Homo sapiens: one gene and its partners. The protein of the gene in region 2 purifies or fractionates together with the protein of the main gene of each other region. This does not show direct contact. Each region holds a gene or a part of one and is shown on either strand. Other genes may lie near its edges.

Region 1 (3,567 bases), on a different chromosome or scaffold from region 2:
GATATGCCAGGCACACTTTAATATGAGAGCCTTTGTACTTTTAGTCCTGGAATACTATTCCTCTAGGTATCTATTTGGCTTACTCCCCCACTTCCTTCATGTCTTGGCATAAGTGAAGCCTGCCTAAACCACCCGATTTTATTTTATTTTATTATTTTTTGGCACAGTCTCACTCTGTTGCCTGGGCTGGAGTACAATGGCATGATCATGGCTCACTGCAGCCTGCAACCTCCCAGGCTCGAGTGATCCTGCTGTCTCAGCCTCCTGAGTAGCTGAGACTACAAGTGCATGCCACCATGCCTGGCTAATTTTTAAAAACTTTTTTGTAGAGATGGGGTCTCACTATATTGCCCAGGCTGGCCTGAAACTCCTGGGCTCAAGCCATGCTCCTGTCTCAGCCTCTTAAATTGCTGGGACTACTGGCATGGGTCACCATGCCTGGCCCCTTCCTATTTTAAACTGCATTTCTGATTCTCCTTAACCTGACATATTTGCCCATGTATATCATCTAAGATACTCGAATTTACTTGTGTTTATTTAATCTGTTTCTCCTCATTAGAATGTAAGCTCCATGAGGGCAGGAATTTTTAACTTTTTGTTCAGTGATATATCAGTGCTGGCTGGGCGCGGTGGCTCACGCCTGTAATCCCAGCACTTTGGAAGGCCGAGGCAGGCAGATCACTTCAGGTCGGAAGTTTGAGACCAGGCTGGCCAACATGGTGAAACCCTGTCTCTACTAAAAATATAAAAATTAGCCAGGTGTGGTGGCCCGTGCCAGTAATCCAAGCTACCCAGGAGGCTGAGGCAGGAGAATTGCTTGAACCTAGGAGGCAGAGGTTGCATTGAGCCGAGATTGTGCCTCTGCACTCCAGCCTGAGCAACAGAATGAGACTCTATGACTCTATATCCAAAATATATACATACATATATATATATATATATATATATATATAAAATTGCCTAATAGTACCTGGCACGTAGTGCTTAATAATAAATATTTACTGAATGAACGAATGAATTATAATCTGTAGACTTTAAGAATTTATGTAATTGGAACCTTTTTCTGTGGCTTGTTAATCTTATTCTGGATAGTTGAGTTTACTTGATAAATGGCATAAATATATAAGGAGAGTACTGTATCTTAATATTGCATGTATGGTAAGTAATAAATTGATTGTTAAACTGATTTTTATGGAACACTTTGGAGTTTAAGTCCTTTAATTATTTAGTATTTTAAAGTATAAAGTCTGTAGTTTTAAGTGTCTAACCTATTTTTTGTTGAGATCTGAAAACTTAATATAAGTGTGTCTGTTGGTATTGCTTGGTTAGAGAGCTAAAATATTTCTAATTGGGTTTATTTTGTATTTTGCCTATAGATACACTCTGTGCAGTTTTAGAGAGAGACACACTCAGTATTCGAGAAAGTCGACTTTTTGGAGCTGTTGTACGCTGGGCAGAAGCAGAATGTCAGAGACAACAATTACCTGTGACTTTTGGGAATAAACAAAAAGTTCTAGGAAAAGCACTTTCCTTAATCCGGTTCCCACTGATGACAATTGAGGAATTTGCAGCAGGTAAGGGTATAAATTCACCAAAATCTATTTGAAACTGTTTTAATAGTCTGTCAGGGCTGGGCCTGGTGGCTCACACCTATAATCCCAGCACTTTCGAGAGGCCAAGGCAGGTGGATCACTTGAGGACAGGAGTTCGACACCAGCCTTGTCAACATGGTAAAACCCCGTCTCTACTAAAAGTACAAAAAATTAGGCATGGTGGTGGGCACCTGTAATCTCAGCTACTCAGGAGGCTGAGGCAGGAGAATCGCTTGAACCCAGGAGACGGAGGTTGCAGTGAGCCGAGATCATGCCGTTGCATTCCAGCCCGGGCGACAGAGCGAGATTCCACGAGACTCCATCTCAAAAAAAAAAAAAAATTCTATCAGTCTCCCTGCGCCAGAGAGGAAAAGAAGCTTTTATTCAGTACTAATCACATGACAAACATATATGCGAGTGTATGATTTTAAGCCCTTCAAAATTATATTATCCACATTGTATAGGTTAGAGAAGTAAAGTTGGGAGAGGTTGAGTGCCTTACCCCAGGTTATGACAGATCTTTTTGGCTTTTTTTTTTTTTCTTTTTTTTCTTTTTTTGAGACAGAGTCTTCCTCTGTTACCCAGGCTGGAGTGCCGTGGCACAAACGCATTTCACTGAAGCCTCCACCTCCCAGGCTCAATCAATCCTCCCACCTCAGCCTCCCAAATAGCAGGGACTATAGGTGCACACTACCATGCTCAGCTAATTTTTTAATTTTTTTTATAGAGACAGGATTTCACCATCCTGTCAGGGCTGGTCTTGAACTCCTGGGCTCAAGCCTCCCAAAGTGCTGGGATTACAGGTGTAAGCCACCACGCCCAGCCTCTGTTTGACTCTTAAGGTCGATGCTTCTGATTAAAATCAGACAGATCTGTTTTGAGTCTCCATGACCACTTCTGACCTGTTTTCATTACCCAGGTCATAATTGACTATTATCTGCCTTTAAATCACGGCCAGATTGATTCAAAAGAAAGAAAAGTCTCATGGTTTTTTTTTTTTTTTTTTTTTTGAGACAGGGTCTCCCTCTGTTGCTCAGGCTGGAGTGCGGTCGTGCGATCTCAGCTCACCGCAACGTCCATCTCCTGGGTTCAAGCGATTCTCACACCTCAGCCTCCTGAGTAGCTGGGATTACAGGCGTGCACCGCCACAAACTAATTTTTGTATTTTTAGTAGAGACAGAGTTTCACCATATTTGTCAAGCTGGTCTTGAACTCCTGACCTCAGGTGATCTGCCCACCTCGGGCTCCCAAAGTGCTGGGATTATAGGCATGAGCCACTGTGCCTAGCTCTCATGATTTTTTAAAAAATAATTTCAACTTTTATTTTAAATTCGGGGTAACGTGCAGATTTGTTTCATGTGTATATTGTGTGATGCTGAAGTTTGAGGTACAGTTGATTGCATCACTTAGGCAGTGAGCATAGTGTCCAGTAGTTAGTTTTTTAACTCTTTTCCCCCTTCTGTCCCTTCCTCTTTTCCCCTTTTTAACAGTCCTCAGTGCTTATTGTTTCCATCTTTATGTCCATGTGTATCCAATGTTTAGCTTCCACAAGTGAGAACATACGGTATTTGGTTTACTGTTTCTGCATTAACTCACTTAAGATAATGGCTTCTAGCTGCATCCATGTTGCTGCGAAAGGCATGATTTTGTTCTTTTTTATGGCTTTATAGTATTCTGTGGTGTGTGTGTGTCCGTGTGTGTGTGTGTGTGTGTGTGTGTGTGTGTCACATTCTCTACCCAGTCTACCACTGATGGGCACCCAGGTTGAGTCAGTGTCGTTGCTGTGATGAACATATGAGTGCATGTGTCTTTTGGTGGAACATTTTCTTTTCTTTTGGATATATAACCAGTAATGGGATTGCTGGGTTGACTGGTAGTTCTATGTTTTTTGGTTTTTTTGGGAGGTTGTTTGTGGTTTTTTTTTTTTTTTTTGAGACAGAGCCTCACTCTGTCACCCAGGCTGGAGTACAGTGGT
Region 2 (3,567 bases):
AAAATGAGCCTATAAAAGGCTGTGCTTACAAGCGAAATGTAAGTTTCTGGCTGCCTACTAACATGTAGCTACACAAACCTGGAAGTCTTCCTGCCAAACATGCAGAAGAGTCTTCGCATCAAAGAGATAGTGAGGCCTGGAGGGGGACGCCTGGAGTGCCTGCCGTTGGGGACACAGGCCTGGTCACAGCCCTGGGGGCGGAGGAAGCAGGGCTTCCCGAGAGGCAGACTGCACCCAGGTATCTGCGCTGGGGCAGCTTCTCATTGAGTGGATGCACCCCAGGAGGAGCAGGGACTAGAACTCCTTTATTCAGTGATTGAAACTGTGAGAGGCAAATCAATCTTGGGGCCCCCAAATCACTAAGTTAAAGGAAAAGTCAAGCAGGGAACTGCCTAGGGCAAAGCTGCCTCCCGTCCTACTCAAAGTCTTCCCTCTGCCCACTGAGATAAATGCACACCTGATTGCCTCCTTTGGAAAGGCTTATAAGAAACTCGAAAGAATGCAACCGTTTGTCTCTCACCTGTCTGAGACCTGGAAACACCCCTCCCTGCTGGAGTTGTCCCGCCTCTGGACGGAACCAATGTCCATCTTACATATAGTGATTGATGTCTCAAGTCTCCCTAACGTATACAGCCAGGCTGTGCCCCGACCACCATGTGTACATGTTATCAGGACCTCCTGAGGCTGTGTCATGGTTGTGCGTCTTCAACCTTGGCAATTAAACTTCCTAAATTAGCCTGGCGTGGTGGCTCACGCCTGTAATCCCAGCACTTTGGGAGGCCGAGGTGGGCGGATCACGAGATCAGGAGATCGAGACCATCCTGGCTAACACGGTGAAACCCCGTCTCTACTAAAAATACAAAAAATAATTAGCCGGGTGTGGTGGTGGGCACCTGTAGTCCCAGCTACTCGGGAGGCTGGGGCAGGAGAATGGCTTGAACCTGGGAGGCGGAGCTTGCAGTGAGCTGAGATCGCGCCACTGCACTCCAGCCTGGGCGACAGAGGGAGACTTCATTAAAAACAAACAACAAATAAACAAACAAAACTTCCTAAATTAACTGAGACCCATCTCAAATATTCAGGGTTCACAAACCTTTTCTCTAGGGTGGCCATGATGGGGCAGGAAGCCAGATGGGGAAAAAATACCCCAGGAGTGAAAGGGCGTGGAGAAGTGTGGGTTTGGGGTGAGCTGTTTTCCTTCTGCATTTCCAATAACCTGCATGACCTTAGGTGAGTTAATTTACCCAACTTGGGGGCTCATGGTTAAGGATGAAACTCACCTGTAGCAAAAGCATTAAAAAAAAAAAAAAGAAAAGAAAAAAGAAAGTCACCCTATTAGCTGACCCAGAAAGATTGTTCTAGGCCAGGCTCAGAATAGAGGAAAGGGCTGAAGGGAGACCACAAGGACTGGGGGACCTGTGCCAGAGGCACGGGGCAGGGCGTGGGGCTCAGGGGCCAGGTGTTACCCCCTCCTTAGAGGCTGGGGCACTATGGGGAGGCCCAGTTGGGGGCCATGTGACAGGGCGGTCTGCTGCTTGCACGGGACAGGGGGTCCTCGGGTGAGCCCAGCTCTGCTGCTCACCCCCACTCATGTGGGGTGGACAAGTCCTTTCCCTATCTGAGCCTCAGTTTCCCCCTCTGGAAGAAGAGGAAGACAGACCAGATGCACTCTGAAGCCCCTGTACCTCTGGCTCACGGGCTCACTGTGGGGGGCCTGTGAAATCCCCCAAATCACTAAGCTAAAGGGAAAAGTCAAGCTGAGAACTGCTGAGGGCCACCCTGCCTCCCATTCCATTCCAAGTCACCCCTCTGCTCCCTGAGATAGATGCGTATCTGATCGCCTCATTTGGAGAGGCTCATCAGAACCTCAAAAGAATGCAACTGTTTATCTCTCACCTACCTGCGACCTGGAAGCCCCCTCCCCACTTCCTGCCTTTGCTTCAAGCTGGCCCAGCTTTCCAGACCGAACCAATGTACTTCTTACAAATATTGATTGATGTCTCATGTCTCCCTAAAATGTATAAAACCAAGCTGTGCCGGATCACCTTGGGCACATGTCATTAGGACTTCCTGAGGCTGTCACGGGCGCGTCCTCAACCTTGGAAAAATAAACTTTCTAAATTAACTGAGACCTGTCTCAGATTTTCTGGGTTCACAGGCCCAACCTTCCGTGTCCCCCAAGGCGTTCCGGGGCGGCCTCACCTTCGCTTCTTCTGCATCCAGTCCTTGACCTCCAGGTCCGGGAGCCCCATCCACTGGCCTTGGCTCAGGATCACCATGGAGCCTTCGATGGACTGCAGGGAAAGGAACCCTTTGGTCCAGGCCTCTGCTCGCCTGAACCCATTTGGGGCTAGAGGGCATGGGAGGCCTTTGCTGGGGCTGGGTAGAGGGAGGAGGGAGAGGCAGGGTTGCGGGGTGGAGAATGAGGAAAGGGAGATGCCAGAGTCCCAGCCCCAAGTGGGGAGAACGAGGGAGAGAGCCCCCCACAAGCCATGCCCTCGCTGCCCCACTCACGTGCCAGGCTCCCCCGGGGAGGTTCCGGCCCAGAACCACGTGGGGGATGGCGTGCTCCTTCCGGTGCTTCCAGGTGAGGACCGACTTCATGTTTCCCCCAAAGTCTGTGTCTGGGCGTAGAAGGGCATCAAAGAGCAGGGCCACGGGGCTTTGGGATCGGCCTTCGAGGCCTTCGGACAGGTAGTCCAGGTCCTGGAGGGGGGCATAGGTCAGAGGGGCTGCTGGAGGAGGGCGGGGTCGTCTTCCCAGAGCCTGAGGCTGGGCAGGAACGTGGGGACTGGGGCCGGGCCATTTCCCTGGCACTGGAGGGTCTCAGAGAGATGCGCACCCTGGGGGTAGTTTGAAGCTCTCGTTTTGAGGTCTTTCTAGGAGGCCAAGGGCCCCAGAGTACAGACCAAATGCGCAAGCTTGGGTGAGACTGGAGCGATTGCCTGGTCCTACATCCCTACCCTAATATCAGTGTGGTCAGATCAGCTTGGGAGGTGCTGCCTCTTAACAGCAGATAACACAGACGGGCATATTAAAGGCTCTGACAAGTCCTGCAGCCATCATTTACCTGTTTAATTTTGCCAAACCCAGTGTGTCCCTGTTTTACTGGAGTGGGGACATTTTTCTCTCTATATTATACTGAGGAACTAGTATTCTATAGAGAGCACTTTGAAAAATGCTGATCTAGATCAAATGGTCAAGACCTATTTCCTCATCTCCAACTCAGGGGCGGGAAGGGAACAGGAGGATGTACACTGCCTGACGAGGGAGGTCGACAAGGGGAGGTCGTGGAGGAGCACAGTGGAAGACAAGGGGTACGGAGGGAGGATTTGCAAACCCTTGTGGGCAGGAGGTAGTGGGACTGAAATATCTGTGGTGGAGTTTCTCAACCTTGGCCGCACTGACATTTGAGCCAGATCATTCTTTGTAGCCAGAACAAAGTCATCCAAATGTCAGTGGGGCCAAGGTTGAGAAGCTCCACCACACATATTTCAGTCTCACCACCCTCGTTGTCCTGTGCAGTGCTGGATGTTTGCCAGCATCCCTGGCCTCCACCCTGCTAGA
Region 3 (4,010 bases), on a different chromosome or scaffold from region 2:
TGCAGGGCAGTCCCATCAGGGCACCCTGGATGACCTGGGTCCCACAGGCTTTCAGGTGATGCTGTCATCTCCTGGGGGGCCACTGAAAGGTGCTGCCTCTTTGTAGCTCTCCTTGGAAACTACCTCAGGCTGCGAATCTGAAGGAAGCAAATGACTGTTCTGTACTTACCTTCTATGCCTAAGATGCAGGTCAAGACTCTCGTGCACCAGCATAAGAGAATGCACAGCATTCGGGAGGGAACCAATGCCACTGCACCCTGCAGGCAGGGCCACCTGAGCAGGGCTGAGGCAGCCATGAGGGAATCTCTTCACAGCCCATCTTACTGCTGGCAAAGCAGCTTTTCCCTGTAGGTCAGGTTTTCCTAAATTAGGAGCCGAGTCTCACAGACACTTTCATCACAAACCTTTCAGTTTCTCTCCTAACAATGCCATGGGCATATGCCTGTCTATCCCATCCTTTCAGCAGGAGGATTCAAAGGAGCCCACACGGGGCTTTACCAATGCTCTCCCACCCTCTCAGGAAAGCTGCCATCCAGTGCCCAGGCACCTACCGACCACAGTGGGCTCCAGGTCCACAAACACTGCTCTGGGCACGTGCTTGCCAGCTCCAGTCTCACTGAAGAACGTGTTGAAGGAGTCGTCCCCGCCACCAATGGTTTTATCACTTGGCATTTGACCATCGGGCTGAATTCCATGTTCAAGGCAGTACAGTTCCCAGCAGGCATTGCCGATCTGGACACCCGCCTGCCCCACGTGGATAGAGATACACTCGCGCTGTGAACCGGAACATAAATGTGAACCCATTCATTTCAAGGCAACTTGAAACTATATGGCATGCAAAATATTCTAATTTAATATTTATATAGTGCTTCAGTATCTGGCGCTTTCACAATCGATATTTCCTAGGAGGGTTAGTGACTGATCCCTTTATCGCTGTGAAAACTAATTGCTGTAAACCATACTAGCTAGTAAGTTCTAGAAGTAGCCCTAGAACCTGTTTGCCACTACACAAAACTTAGGTTATTTTAAAACTTGGAAGCCATTTAATGTCAATAATCAACCCCACATTATAGCCCGTCACAGTAATTCTCTGAAGAATAAGTAGCAGTTTTTGATTATGTCCTGATCAAAGGATAAGGTAGTCGGGTTGGGTAAGGAAATACAGAGTAGGTCCCAGGTCACCATGGTCCAAGCCCAGGTGCTCAGTGTGTGTCCTCTCTCTGCCCCCCAGTTCTACCCCGTCCATCATTCACCACCTGCTCTGTGCTCTCGAAGGCTGACCCTTGAGAACAGCATCAGAGGCCTTCCTCGCCCTCTGGCTTCTTGCTGGTTTGGTCAATGGCAGGCAGCAGTGGGATACTGGGGGGCTGGAGGAAAGCAGTGCCAGGGTACTCCCTCCTTGGCCCCTTCCTGCTCAACTGCTGTGGGTGACCTGAATCCCTCTCAAGGCTACACTTTTGGCAGGCTGCCCTCTTCATAAAACTACCCTCCTAATTTCTTGTAACCACGCCCTCTCTCTACCCCTTGAAGCCTACGGGTGTAATGGCTCCCAGACATCATCAGTGCTGGGACACTGCACTGTCCTTTGGTGGTTTCTTTAAACTCTGCCAAGCTGGGTGTGGTGGCTCATTCCTGTAATCCCAGCACTTTGGAAGGCTGAGGTGAGAGGATCACTTGGGACCAGTTTGAGACCAGCCTGGGTAACATAGTGAGTCCCTGTCCCTATGAAAAATTTACAAATTAGCCAGGTGTGGTGGCACACACCTGTAGTACCAGCTACTCGGAAGGCTGAGGCGGGAGGACTGCTGGAAGCCAGGGGTTCAAGGCTGCAGGGAGCCGTGATCTTGCAACTGTGTTCCAGCCTGGGCAACAGAGCATTTATTGAGTGCTGTCTCAAAAAAAAAAAAAAAAGAAAAGAAAAGAAAAAAGAAAAAGAAAGGAAAAAAAGGATAACTGACAAATCACAGCTATTCAGACTTGGGACTTGGGAATCTGTTATGTTAATGGGCTGCTTTTTTTGTTTGGTTTTTTGAGGCAGGGTCTCTGTGGCCCAGGCTGGAGTGCACTGGCGCCATCACGACTCACTGCAGCCTCAAAGTTCCAGGCTCGGCTGATCCTCCCACCTCAGCCTCCCGAGTAGCTGGAACCACAGACTCGCATCACCATGCCCGGGTAATTTTAGTATTTTTTTGTAGAGACTGGGTTTCGCCATGTTGGTCGGGCTGATCTTGAACTCCAGACATCAGGGGATCCGCCCGCCTCCACCTCCCCAAGGGCTGGGATTCCAGGCGTGAGCCGCCGCGCCTGGCCTAACGGTTGCCTTTAGGTGAACAAGGCAATGTTGCAGCAGCGTCTGAGCCTTAATTCCTCATCTGACCAATGTCCACAGCCCCAACCCCCGTCACCGAAGGCTCCTGCAGCTCCTCAGCTGTTTCCAGTAGCACAAAGACGTGTGAAGCGGGAGCAGCGCCCTCCTGTCTTCAGGAGGCGACGCCACTATTTGCTCTCTGGGGGACGGGATACCGTCAATGGTCCCCGTCCACTAAAGGCCGGCAGCTTCATCTAAAACAAAAGCCGCCGTCCCTGCCCTGGGACCTGCAGATCCAGGAAACGATCCCGTGTCCTCCTGTCCCGCACTAGACCCTGCGTCCTTCTCTGGCCTCCTCTCAGCGCCCAGGCCCGCAACAACGTCCCTCTGTCCACCCGAGGCCAACTTCGTCTGCCTGGGCATCTGCGGGGCGGGAGTGACCCGGGTCTTACCATGGCGAACTCCGCTGCTTCAGCCCAACGCTACTTCCAGACCTCAACCGGCTGCCACAGCTGCTGAGCGCCCAACTGCAATGACCTGCCCACGCGCGCCGCACAGGATTGGCCTGCCGGTGCCAGGCCGCCATTGGCTCGGAGTTCCTGGGAGGCAGGCCGAGGGCCGGATCCCAGTTCTGATTGGCCGTTGCTCAACACGTGTAGTGGGGATGCTCTCTGATTGGATGCAGGATTGGCGGGAAGGCAGCGGGGTCATCAAAGGCTGCGCGGTTGCTGAGGCATTTCCGGGGTGTCTTCCGACCAGGATTGGAACAGCTACTGCGCTGCCTCTGTGGGTCGCGGAACATTGCCTTGCTCCCAGTGTGCCACTGCCCCTCCCTGATTGCCCCAGGCCTGCTCCTCTCCCTGCCTAATTCAGATCTTTGCAAACAAGGCCACCTCTGAGAGGCCTTGCCGCCATCTACCCAAGTCACAGCAGCACCGCAATTATCCCCCTCTTCCCTGTTCCCACCCAGCACCCGGGAAGTGGCAGGATTCAATCACTTTTCTGACCCAAAGGGAGAAAACGGGCCGGGCGCGATGGCTAACGCCTGCAATCCCAGCACTTCGGGAGGCCGAGGCGGGTGGATCACTTGAGGTCAAGAGTTCCCGAGACCAGCCTGGCCAATATGGTGAAAACCCATCTCTACTAAAAACACAAAAATTACCCTGGCTGGTGGTAGGCACCTGTAATCCCAGCTACACGGGAGGCTGAGGTAGGAGAATCGCTTGAAACTGGGAGGCAGTTGTTGCAGTGAGCCGAGATTGGGCCACAGCACACTCCAGCCTGGGCAACAGAGCCAGACTCTGTCTCAAAAAAAAAAGGAAGAAAGGAGGCAAAATTAACGTAAGTGGAGAGGTTGGGCCAGGCACACCAGCTCATGCCTGTAATTCCAGTGCTTTGGGAGGCCACGGCAGGAGGATTGCTTCAGGTCAGGAGTTCGAGACCAGCCTGGGCAACGTGGTGAGTCCCACCTTGCCCGTTTCTACAAAAAATAAAATTAGCAAGGCATGGTGGCATGCGCCTGTAATCCCAGCTACTCAGGAGGCTGAGGCAGGAGAATCCCTTGAACCCGGGAGGCAGAGGTTACAGTGAGCTGAGATCACGCCACTGCACTCAAGCCTGGGTGACAGAGCAAAACTCCATCTTGAAAAAAAAAATAGTTTATTTGGGCCAAGTTTGAGAAGTGCAACCCTGGAGATGCAAG
Region 4 (3,567 bases), on a different chromosome or scaffold from region 2:
CCCAGGAAACAGATATTTGTGCATGGGGTATAGATTATTTACATTACAAACAGAATATGTATAGTTTCTTTTATTAAATACCAAAGTTACGAGTTTCCTAGCCTAAATTGTATAATTCAGCACTCAGTAATCAACTTTCTCTCTGAATAAAGCAAAATAAAATACATAGCAAATAGTACACCTAACACGCACAAGTAGTTCACTTATATTCACTAAAGAAAACTGTGATATCCTCCAGTTTACATTCATGAATTCTTTCTGTCAGTAGTAGTAGTAGTAGTAGTAGTAGTAGTAGTAGTAGCAGTAGTAGCTGCTGCTGTTGTTGTAGCAACGGTATTTTCTTCAACAACGTGAAATGATTCTTTAGCATTTCATCATTTAGAGAAAAGAATACATACTACACAGTGGTTCTGAATTATACATTAAATAAGACCAATTTGGCCAGTTTTTTATAAATATGATTTTAAAATGTGCTCAAATTTTTTGTAGACCATTAATATTATTCATATTTAAAATGTTAGTTTATCTTCATGAAGTAAAATGATTAAGTAGCATTGTCTAAAGTTTACTGTAATACAATATACTATATCATGTGTGCTATATGCACAAGTCCACTACAGCAAGATGTCAACTGTATTATCATAGGATTCAAGGTAGAATGATATGCTACACTGTACTTCAAAGCACATCGAAGTCAGAAAAACAACAGTGTAGTTCATTTATAAAGGGGATAGATGATGATTACAATCCAATTGGTTAACTTGAAAGTCAGTTTATATAACACCAGGATAGTGTCAACACCACATACTTCATTTTCAAAGGCTTAACTATGACCTATTTATAAGATTACACCAACAGTATAAAGCCTTTGGAAAAAAAAAAAGTTTCACTTGTACTAAATTTCCATGATGTAAAATTTACAGAAGCCTTATAAAAACCTTTATTTCTAAATGAGGCCACTTATTATGGATAATATACAGATCTGCCTGCACACATTATCTGAGATATAATTCTTCTATAAAAACTTTGGCACCAACTATATCAAGAATTCATATATTAGCACAAATGTATTTTGCTCTGGCACCAAACCACTATGTTTACATTTTAGTAACTACAGTGAGTCAAATGAATGGAGTCCTTTGGTTTTACGGAATAACAAGCTTTTATAATAAGTTTTTGTTGTTTTTCTTTCATTAGAAAAAGCCTATCCTTCAGGATCTGATGTTTAAAAATACTAACATTGCTTGTCATTATACTATTATATATGTATACTGATTGTTGGTAATGACTCCCCAAACCATAATTGTATGAAACAAGAAAAAAAATATTAAAGTAACTTTATTTGAAAGGAATTTTAGAAGCTTGTGTGCAGAGAAGTTGTGAGGACCTGGTGGACACCAATTATATGCTTAAATAAACACTTGAACACTACTGCAAACACATAGTATGAATATTGTGGACCTGTGAATGGTTTTTTAAATCTCACTTCCCCTAAAAATGGGGATTTAATATTACTTAATATTCAAGTAATTTAGCAGACAACGATGCCTTTGATAAGAATAGGAAAAAAGCCACACATTTAATTTCATCTTCATCCAGTTTGGCCTAGGAACACCACAAATCTTACAGGCCAGTTGATGTTCGCTTTTTCATGCTCCGTCGCTGGGCTAAGCTTGAAGCAGCTACAGGCTCTAGGACTGGTTGAAAGGTCTTGTGAGTCAGGGCAGAGTATGTTGCAACCATTGCTCCCTAAAGTAATGAGAAAATGCCACAAACTAAGTACAAATTCTGGAGTTAAAAAAAAAAAAAACTTTCACATGATATCATGAGACATATATCTAGAACAAAATGTTTTCCTAGGAAAATAATTGAATATATTAGATCTGTGCACTGATGAATCAATATTACTTGTATGTTTTTCATTTCAATAACTATGCTTTTTACAAAAAATTGTTAAAACACTAACATTTAAAACCTTGATTCAATGTATATGGATATAGGAATGGTTTCACGAACAGTTATAAATTAAGAACTAACAGCAATCTTTTATTTCAATATGAAACTTGCATTTAGCCCAATCCTAATTCCAGCATCTCTCAAAAGCACGGCAGGTACAATCAAGAAATTTTTATTGTTTCATCTGAAAGGCAGTAGTAAAGTAAGCTAAGAAAAGTACATGGTTGTTAATTTAAAAAAATCTATCTTTAAAAAATAAAGATATTTTAAGGAATTATTTAAGTGTCATCAGCAAGTGGCACACAATGGGTTTATTAGGTATCTGATATCTCGAAGGCACATAAAAGTATGTTTGTTTTACCTTAACAACATGTGACACATCATTTCTCTTTGGCTGATCATTTGGCAACTGGTCTCTGTGAGTTATCCATGAGTGCTTTAATATTTGTTCAGCAGTATACCGCTGATGTGGGTCCATATGAAGCATATGGGAAAGCAAATCCTAAATTAAAAAAAATGTGTGTGTATATATATATACATGTATACATACATAATTTTACATTTGCTGAAAATGTGACAGCATCAATAGCCTTGCAATCTGTTTATTTCACCTACATTTATGCAAAGTAAAATCTATACTCTACACAGTTAACTCTCAAGAGAATCTTGAGAGATATTTTTCAATATATACTAAATCCTTATACACCACTTTTAAATCGGAAGATGCCAAATCTGTGGAATTGGATGTGTGATTAGTGACGGAGGAGGAAAATGTAAAATGGCAGAAGTTATCCTGGAATATGCTAAATGTTCAGCAGGAGACAGGAGCTATTGAACTTTGCTGTTAAGCTGGGCCCCAAGGTGTAAGGGTATGTGTACACAGATAAAACATAGAAGGGAGGGTCCCATGTAGTTAATCCATTCAATAAATGGTGGCTTACTATATAACATATTAAGAAAGCAAACCATAAATCCAATGTTAGCAAGTGGCTTCTATCATAGTAGTCCCCAGTGCATTTTAAGTTTTTCATCAAAGTAAGTGTACGTTTGCTTATGTTATCTCTGTTGCAATTAAAAAAGTTGTAAATTTAATATAACCTCACAGGAAAAGTTTTCAATATATTAAGAGATGTAATACTTTTAAATAAACTGTCTCTCCCAAGTATCTTTTAGAGAAATGAGAAGTAAACTCCTTAATAAGCATTTTCGGAGAATCTGGCAAGATGGCCGAATAACAGCTCCGGTCAGCAGCTCCCAGTGAGACCAAAGCAGAAGGTGGGTGATTTCTCCATTTACAACTGAGGTACCCAGTTCGTCTCACTGGGACTGGTTAGCCAGTGGGTCCAACTCACGGAGGGTGAGCAGAAGTAGGGTGGGGCATCGCCCAACATGAGAAGTGCAAGGAGCCAGGGGACCTCTCTCCCTCAGCCAAGCAAAGCTGTGAGGGACTGTGCTACCCAGCCCAGATACTACACTTTTCCCATGGTTTTTGCAATCCACAAATCAGGAGATTCCCTGGTGTGCCTACACCACCAGGGTCCTGGGTTTCAAGGATAAAACTGGGAGACAATTTGGGCAGACAGTGAGCTAGCTGCAGTTTTTTTTTTTTTT

What was found.
Region 1: the proteins of OSGIN1 (region 2) and BTBD1 purify together in Homo sapiens (affinity purification with mass spectrometry; 3 studies listed by BioGRID and IntAct, with this or other methods). This does not show direct contact.
Region 3: the proteins of OSGIN1 (region 2) and TUBA3E purify together in Homo sapiens (affinity purification with mass spectrometry; one large-scale study listed by BioGRID and IntAct). This does not show direct contact.
Region 4: the proteins of OSGIN1 (region 2) and RPS6KA6 purify together in Homo sapiens (affinity purification with mass spectrometry; 3 studies listed by BioGRID and IntAct, with this or other methods). This does not show direct contact.

The regions. Positions count from the first base shown.
Region 1 is NC_000015.10:83,039,735-83,043,301, reverse strand, and holds part of BTBD1 (BTB/POZ domain-containing protein 1), read left to right. Parts: intron 1-1,376; coding exon 1,377-1,574; intron 1,575-3,567.
Region 2 is NC_000016.10:83,959,708-83,963,274, reverse strand, and holds part of OSGIN1 (oxidative stress-induced growth inhibitor 1), read right to left. Parts: intron 2,707-3,567; coding exon 2,515-2,706; intron 2,295-2,514; coding exon 2,203-2,294; intron 1-2,202. UniProt on the Homo sapiens protein: Monooxygenase catalytic activity. Involved in regulation of cytokinesis; promotes RHOA activity, probably acting locally at the midbody in late cytokinesis.
Region 3 is NC_000002.12:130,195,598-130,199,607, forward strand, and holds the start of TUBA3E (tubulin alpha-3E chain), read right to left. Parts: upstream 2,843-4,010; 5' UTR 2,764-2,842; coding exon 2,761-2,763; intron 775-2,760; coding exon 552-774; intron 1-551. UniProt on the Homo sapiens protein: Tubulin is the major constituent of microtubules, a cylinder consisting of laterally associated linear protofilaments composed of alpha- and beta-tubulin heterodimers.
Region 4 is NC_000023.11:84,062,654-84,066,220, forward strand, and holds part of RPS6KA6 (ribosomal protein S6 kinase alpha-6), read right to left. Parts: intron 2,459-3,567; coding exon 2,318-2,458; intron 1,750-2,317; coding exon 1,624-1,749; 3' UTR 1-1,623. UniProt on the Homo sapiens protein: Constitutively active serine/threonine-protein kinase that exhibits growth-factor-independent kinase activity and that may participate in p53/TP53-dependent cell growth arrest signaling and play an inhibitory role during embryogenesis.